Regions from separate parts of the Homo sapiens genome. Here region 2 is linked to region 1. The links come from fine-mapping of genetic effects on gene expression. A gene starts in region 1. The other region holds a variant in brackets. All regions are shown on one strand. Distances are from middle to middle.

What was found. PIP is the estimated chance that this variant, and not a neighbour inherited with it, causes the effect.
Region 2: its variant is the best candidate, but not a certain one, in a credible set for the expression of MPPED2 in lung (TOPMed, PIP 0.78).

The regions. Positions count from the first base shown.
Region 1 is chr11:30,584,963-30,587,871 of GRCh38, reverse strand. MPPED2 (metallophosphoesterase domain containing 2) reads left to right here and starts at 1,519. Exons shown (of 7, transcript NM_001584.3): 1 at 1,519-1,830. All of the region lies in intron 1 of MPPED2-AS1 (MPPED2 antisense RNA 1), which reads right to left. RefSeq lists a silencer at 1,565-1,614.
Region 2 is chr11:30,467,473-30,470,381 of GRCh38, reverse strand. All of the region lies in intron 4 of MPPED2 (metallophosphoesterase domain containing 2), which reads left to right. Among named protein-coding and RNA genes, the nearest start is that of MPPED2-AS1, 120 kb to the left of the region's middle. The variant C/G (reference allele first, on the strand shown) is at 1,476.

The DNA of each region.
Region 1 (2,909 bases):
TTGTTCTGATTTGTGCTGGGCAAGGAAAGACACTGTCCTTTCCACCCCAGCACATTTGACAAGCACTGACACTCTGGGCATGCTGTAAAATAAAATAAATACATTAGTAAGACCATTTCCCTTTTCATTTCAGCCTAGGCATAAGAGATGGGTTACTTAAAATTCAAGTGCCAGGAAAGCCCATTGTAAAAGGGAAATATTTTCAAGTGAATTCCGTTTGATCTTTTTTTATAGGGGCTCCTACAAGCCTCTCTCCCTTCCTCCCCAGACCCTGGAAACCAATTAGTCTCAGCACAGAGGCCACAGACCAGGTTGCAATGGCTCCTTTTTATTTTTAGGGGGTATAATTTCAGCCAGGATGTCTAGTCAGTTGTCACATAGTATACTTAGCACACTTCTCTCTCACACACATATATATACATTGGATTTCCCTTCAGAGAATGCACAGATCTTTCAGTCTGACTCCTAGAAAGGAATTAGATCTGGTTGCTGTCCCAATCTTTCAGCAATGACAATGGCATAACATCACAGGGCCACCTCATCTTTCACAGACAACCCTGCCAACCAAGTTTTCTAAAAGCCTTCTCTCCCTTGTTTTCTGTCTTCCAGCATTTCAGCGGCATTTCCTTTCCTTGTGTTGTTTGTACAAAATTCTGAAAACCTTTTCTTCCATTTTCCAAAGTAGCAGACAAAACTGGACTAAGTTTGATTTTTAAAATGCTTTTGACATGCTTATCTTTTGGGGAAAATTTTATCCAAAAGACGAAAATGGAAACAATTAGAGTCTTTGCCTCTCCTCACCTTCCTGTCCTGAATCTGCCTTAATTCATGGAGGTAAAAAAAATGATCAGCTGGGTTGGCCTTTTCTTTCTCAGCAACATTGCAGAGAGAAAGAGGTGAGTGTGTGAGTGAGTGAGTGAGCGTGTGTGTGTGTGTGTGTGTCTGTCGTGTTGAAAGGCTTGGGGAAAAAGGAGCACAGCTCTCCCCCAGGAAAGCCTCAGATCAGCAGATGGGAGGGAACCTAGGGTCGCCTTCCTAGGTCTGAGCGAAGTGTCCCAGCCGCTCCCCTTACCCCTGCGGTGAGCCCTGCGTCCTGGAACGGTGCCAGGACTCCTGACAGAGCCTGGCAGGTCGGTGGGTGGCGGGGAGCTGGGTGTTCTCTTTGCAGAAGAACACCATTTGGGAGAAAGCTCCCTTCTTTTCCTGGGGCACCGTAGCCCGCCTTCCTTCCCCTATCATTTTTTACGCAGATCGCACTCATGATGATGAACTTGCAGCTCAGCTTCCTGCCGCCTGCTTGACCCGGGAGCACCAGCAGGCTACCGGGCCTCGCCCTCGGCTCCCTCCTCCTCTCGAAACCCTGGGGCTTCGGGGCACCGGTGGGGGTCCGAGTGGGCAGGGACTGCGGGAGGGGCGTGCAGGGGCGCGGGGTCCCGCCGGGGAGCGCGCACGGAGCGGCGCCTCGGCCGCCCTGCTTCCTGGAGCTGTGCTCCTTTGACCCCAGTGGCAGTCCCTGTCACTGCACCGCTCGCTCTCCCTCCGGCTCGCCGCGCCCTCGCTCCCTCTCCTCGCCCCCTCGCTCGCTCTCTCCCCAGATCGAGGCTGCTCGGGTCCTTTCTCCCCCCGCCTCCCTCTAGCGCCGCGCCCCCTGGCCCCCAGCCCCAGCCTGCGGCGGGACCTCCGGGGTCGAAGGTTCTGGCCCGCTCGCGCCCCTCGCCGCCCCCGCGCGCCCCCAGCGCTCCTCCAGCCGGCTCGGGCCGCTCGGCTATGGATCGCCTGCTCGCCGGGCGCTGAAGGCATCCCCGGGATCCGGAGCGCAGCCCGGGAAAGGTAATCCGCCCCGGGAAGGGAGGCGGAGGGCGGGGGAGGGGGAGGAGGCGGCCGGGAGCCCGGTGCCGAGCACTAGAGGAAGGGAAAAAAATGCACACACAAAGCGGAGCCCGGGTGAGAGGTGCCTTGTCAGAGGCGCGTGCGAGGGGCTCGGAGGCTGCGGACCCGGGCTGCCCCGGTGCCCCTGACATCCGCACGAGCGGGCGCCTCCCGGGCAATTCGGCGCTCGGGGAGGGCTGATTTTCAACCCCTGAGCGAAAGCAAATTCTTTTTTAGGAGGTGTCTTCCCTCCGACTCCCCATCCTGCGCCTCTTCTCTTCTCCACCCCCTCCAGCCATCAGTCCCCCGACCTCTGGGGGTCCCCACCTCTTCGCTCCCTCCTCCGCCAGGATTTCTTAGGAGGAGAGGAGGGGGTATCGGCGAGAAGCTGGGGAAGCCGGGCGGCGGGGATGGGGGTGGGGACGAGGGCTCAGCGAGCTGTTTACTAGAAAGTCCCGGGGTGATGTGTTCGAGCCGCCCCGGCCTAGGCCTGGGTGCATTGTGTTGGCCCGATCCCCGGGCTCCCGCGGCGGCCCGAGGCCAGGTGCAGTGACGAGGGGAAGGCACCGCGCAGCTTTGTGCTCCGGCTGCGCCCCGCGGCCGCCCCCGGGGCCGCCCGCGCGCGCCGCTCTCGCTCGGGGCTCTTTCTCACCCCGTCCCCGCGCCCCAACCTCACTCTCCGCCGCTGCCTGGGTCTCCGCGCTCGCAGCCTGCGGAGCGACCCGGCGACCCAAGCTGGGGTCGAGGCTAGGCGACGGGGGACGAGTACCGAGGAAAAGTAACCGTTGCCGCCGGATTTCTTCTCTACAGAGGCAGGAGTTTCTTTGCTATTTACGTATAACAAGGTTATCTTTGTAAAGCCTTTGAATTCCGGGGTTTTGCGGCCTAGGAGGTGAAGGGGGCATTTTTCTAGAGGCTCAGGAGCCGGTTGGAATCCGTCAGCAAGAAAATAAATTAAGGATGCCCCAGTGAAGTTGATTTATAATAGTACATCACCACCCCCCTCTCACACACACACCCCAAATTAAGTGCAAATGCGG
Region 2 (2,909 bases), 120 kb after region 1:
ATGTTTGAGTATTCTGGACACATTTAAAAAAAATTCCTCCCATCTAACTATAATTTATATATTCTTCAATCAACTTTTAAGTGGTGCTTGCTGCTTATTATGGGGGCTTGTTTGCTTGACTGACCATACTGGGCCAGTAGGGTAGGGGACAAGTGAAGGGAGGTTTTCCAAAACCTCTTACATTAGAATCATGAGCTGACTCTCCAGCTGTCCACCTCATGATGGACCATCCTATGTGTACCTTAAAAATGAAAATGAATAATAAATTTTCATAAAAGAAAGTGCTGAAATCAAAGTGGATAAAGTGATTAACATGGACAGATAAAAAATTCAGTCACCAAGCACTTGTACAACCACTCACAAGTTGAAGTTGCAGCAAATAATTTAGATATTGCTGGTCGAATGACATGATTCTAGCTGGGCTGAAGCTACTCTCCATGGAGTTCTCTGGGTACCTTCCATGACACAGTGATAATGAGCCATAAGTGCTTTCCTTGAAGAATTCTTAAGAATCAGACCATGCTCCTTTAGGGAAATTTACTTGTTTTATATTATCAGATTAATAAGTGTAGAGAGGGAAACCATTTGCCTGCTAATCAATGGGGGATATGGAAGGAGTGATCATGATAATGATAATGATGGTGAAGATGATAATGATAATGATAATAACACATTGCATTTGAGGGCTTACTCCTGGGGGAGGCACTCTCTGAAGGGCTTTACACACCTCTCTATTTAGTTCTCTACCTGCTCCTTGAGTACCTTTAACTATAGAAAAGGAGGCTAGGTTCAAGAGATATTAACATTATAGTAATGTACTTAATAGGAGAATATACTTAATTGGAGAAGTAGGACTGAACTTGGCTCTTTCTGCTATGCTGCTGCTACATCTCCGATTCTGAGATTTTTCATCTATAAAAAGGAGTAACAGTAGGCATGCATCCTTATTAGGTTGTTTGCTGCTATGGGAACTAGGTGAGTTAATACATGTAAACTTTCTAGGACCATGTCTGTCATCTAGTAAGTGCTTAATGAATATTAGCCATTATTTTGTATTATTGTTGTCATTACTATTCAATACTACTTTTGATATTAAAAAAAGATAGTCCATATTTTAAGAAAAAAGTAGATGGTAAGAAAACAGAAATGCACACACATAAAGTCAGTGAAAACTACACTTCTTTTCCACTTCCATCAAAGACTATTAAATGTAGGGCCTGCTATTGTATATTTATTCAGACATCAATCTTAATCAGCTCCTTTGCTACTTTGGCGGTAAGGGCATTGTAATTCTATTTTTATCGGTTCCTTCCTGTGCACCAGACATTCAAAATAGCATGAGTAAGGATCAAAAATATCTTAATGGATTTGGTTCCCAGAGATATCAGTGACCAGGGGAAGAGTTTTGCAGAAATTTCTTCCTGAACTGATAAGGAAGGTAAGTGGGGAAGGTGTAGGGAGGGCTGGCTATGCAG[C/G]TTGCTGTTAAGTCTGCATGGTGTGAAAGGCAAAGATCCAGTGGTGGAGTGAATTACAAGGGTCCCTGGAAGAATCTGGGGGATCAGAGCATAAATGCCTCCTATTTTCAGGTTTATGATTGGGACCAGTGTTGTGTAATCATTGAAGATAATACTGACCCCTCATGAGGTAGCCATGGTTTTGGTGAACAGAGTTCCTGGTGTGATTGTGTTACACACACACACAGACACAATATGGAGGTTCCTATATGATTAATATTTTTATTTGTATATCTTGCCTGGGCATCTTTTCTTTCTTTTCTCTCTCCTTTCTTCTTTCTGCTTCTCTCCTAATTATTTTACCTCTTCTCCTCCTTTTACCCTCTTTTTCCCCTTGGCCTCTCTTTCACTCTCCCTTAATGCCATTTTATATTCAGACTAGTCATCATCAAAAAGTTATCAAAGTTTGTAAACTGAGATTGATGGGAAGAGAAAATGAGATTAGAATATCCAGAACAACTATAGTTCTTACAGCAATGCATACAGTGGTAGGCTATGCCACATGGTGAAGTGTGACACAATCTTAGGTGGTGCAGAGGTGCACATTTGTTCTTTAGTAATTATGTATTTATTGCATGCATATTGAAAGAGAGAGAGAGAGAGAGAGAGAGTGTGTGTGTGTGTGTGTGTGTGTGTGTATAGTATGCCATATTTGTGATTTCATGGATATTCTTGTTTAGGATGAGGATAAATTTATTTAAGTAATAAAAGTGATACCATATGTAGAGAAATACTTAGTAAATATTAGTACAGGTGGTACACAGATGTAGCTAATGAATCATGACTCTAGTACATGAGGACTGAAGCTTGGGATACACTGTTGTAATACATGGCATCTTTTACTTGCATCGGGGGGCCTCTGGGGAGAGCTGTAGGATGTGGTTGTTGGTCCATTCCAAGTGATCTCCAAGGAGCCTCCATGTTGTTTTGCCTTGGTTCTGCCATAGCATCAGTAAGCACATCTTGGAGCTAAGGATTCTGAATAAAACCAGCCCCCTCCTACCCCCAACAGTTCCACAGCTGCATCTCTTGATGAAAGCCCAAGGCGTGAGCAATAACTCTGCACCAGCAACTCGAGTTTTTAAACATTTAAACATGTGTAGCAGGTGTGAATGTTATTCTATGATATGCAGATGCAAGAAATTTCACATCAATATATTTGTTTGTTTGTTTTTAGAGTAGAAGTAAATCTAAATCTGAGTCTTGTCTCTTGGAGTGGGAAAGAATTAGATCGCACTTGTAATGGGGGTTCACTCGACCTTGGCTCCCAGCCCAGGGCCTGGGGGAGATCCAGGCCATTTGGTGGGAGCCCTCTGGACTGTGGTCCACACTGGCCACTGCTGATGGGTCCTCTGTTAGTATCCATCAGGTACTGGGCCCTTAAAATCAGGCAAT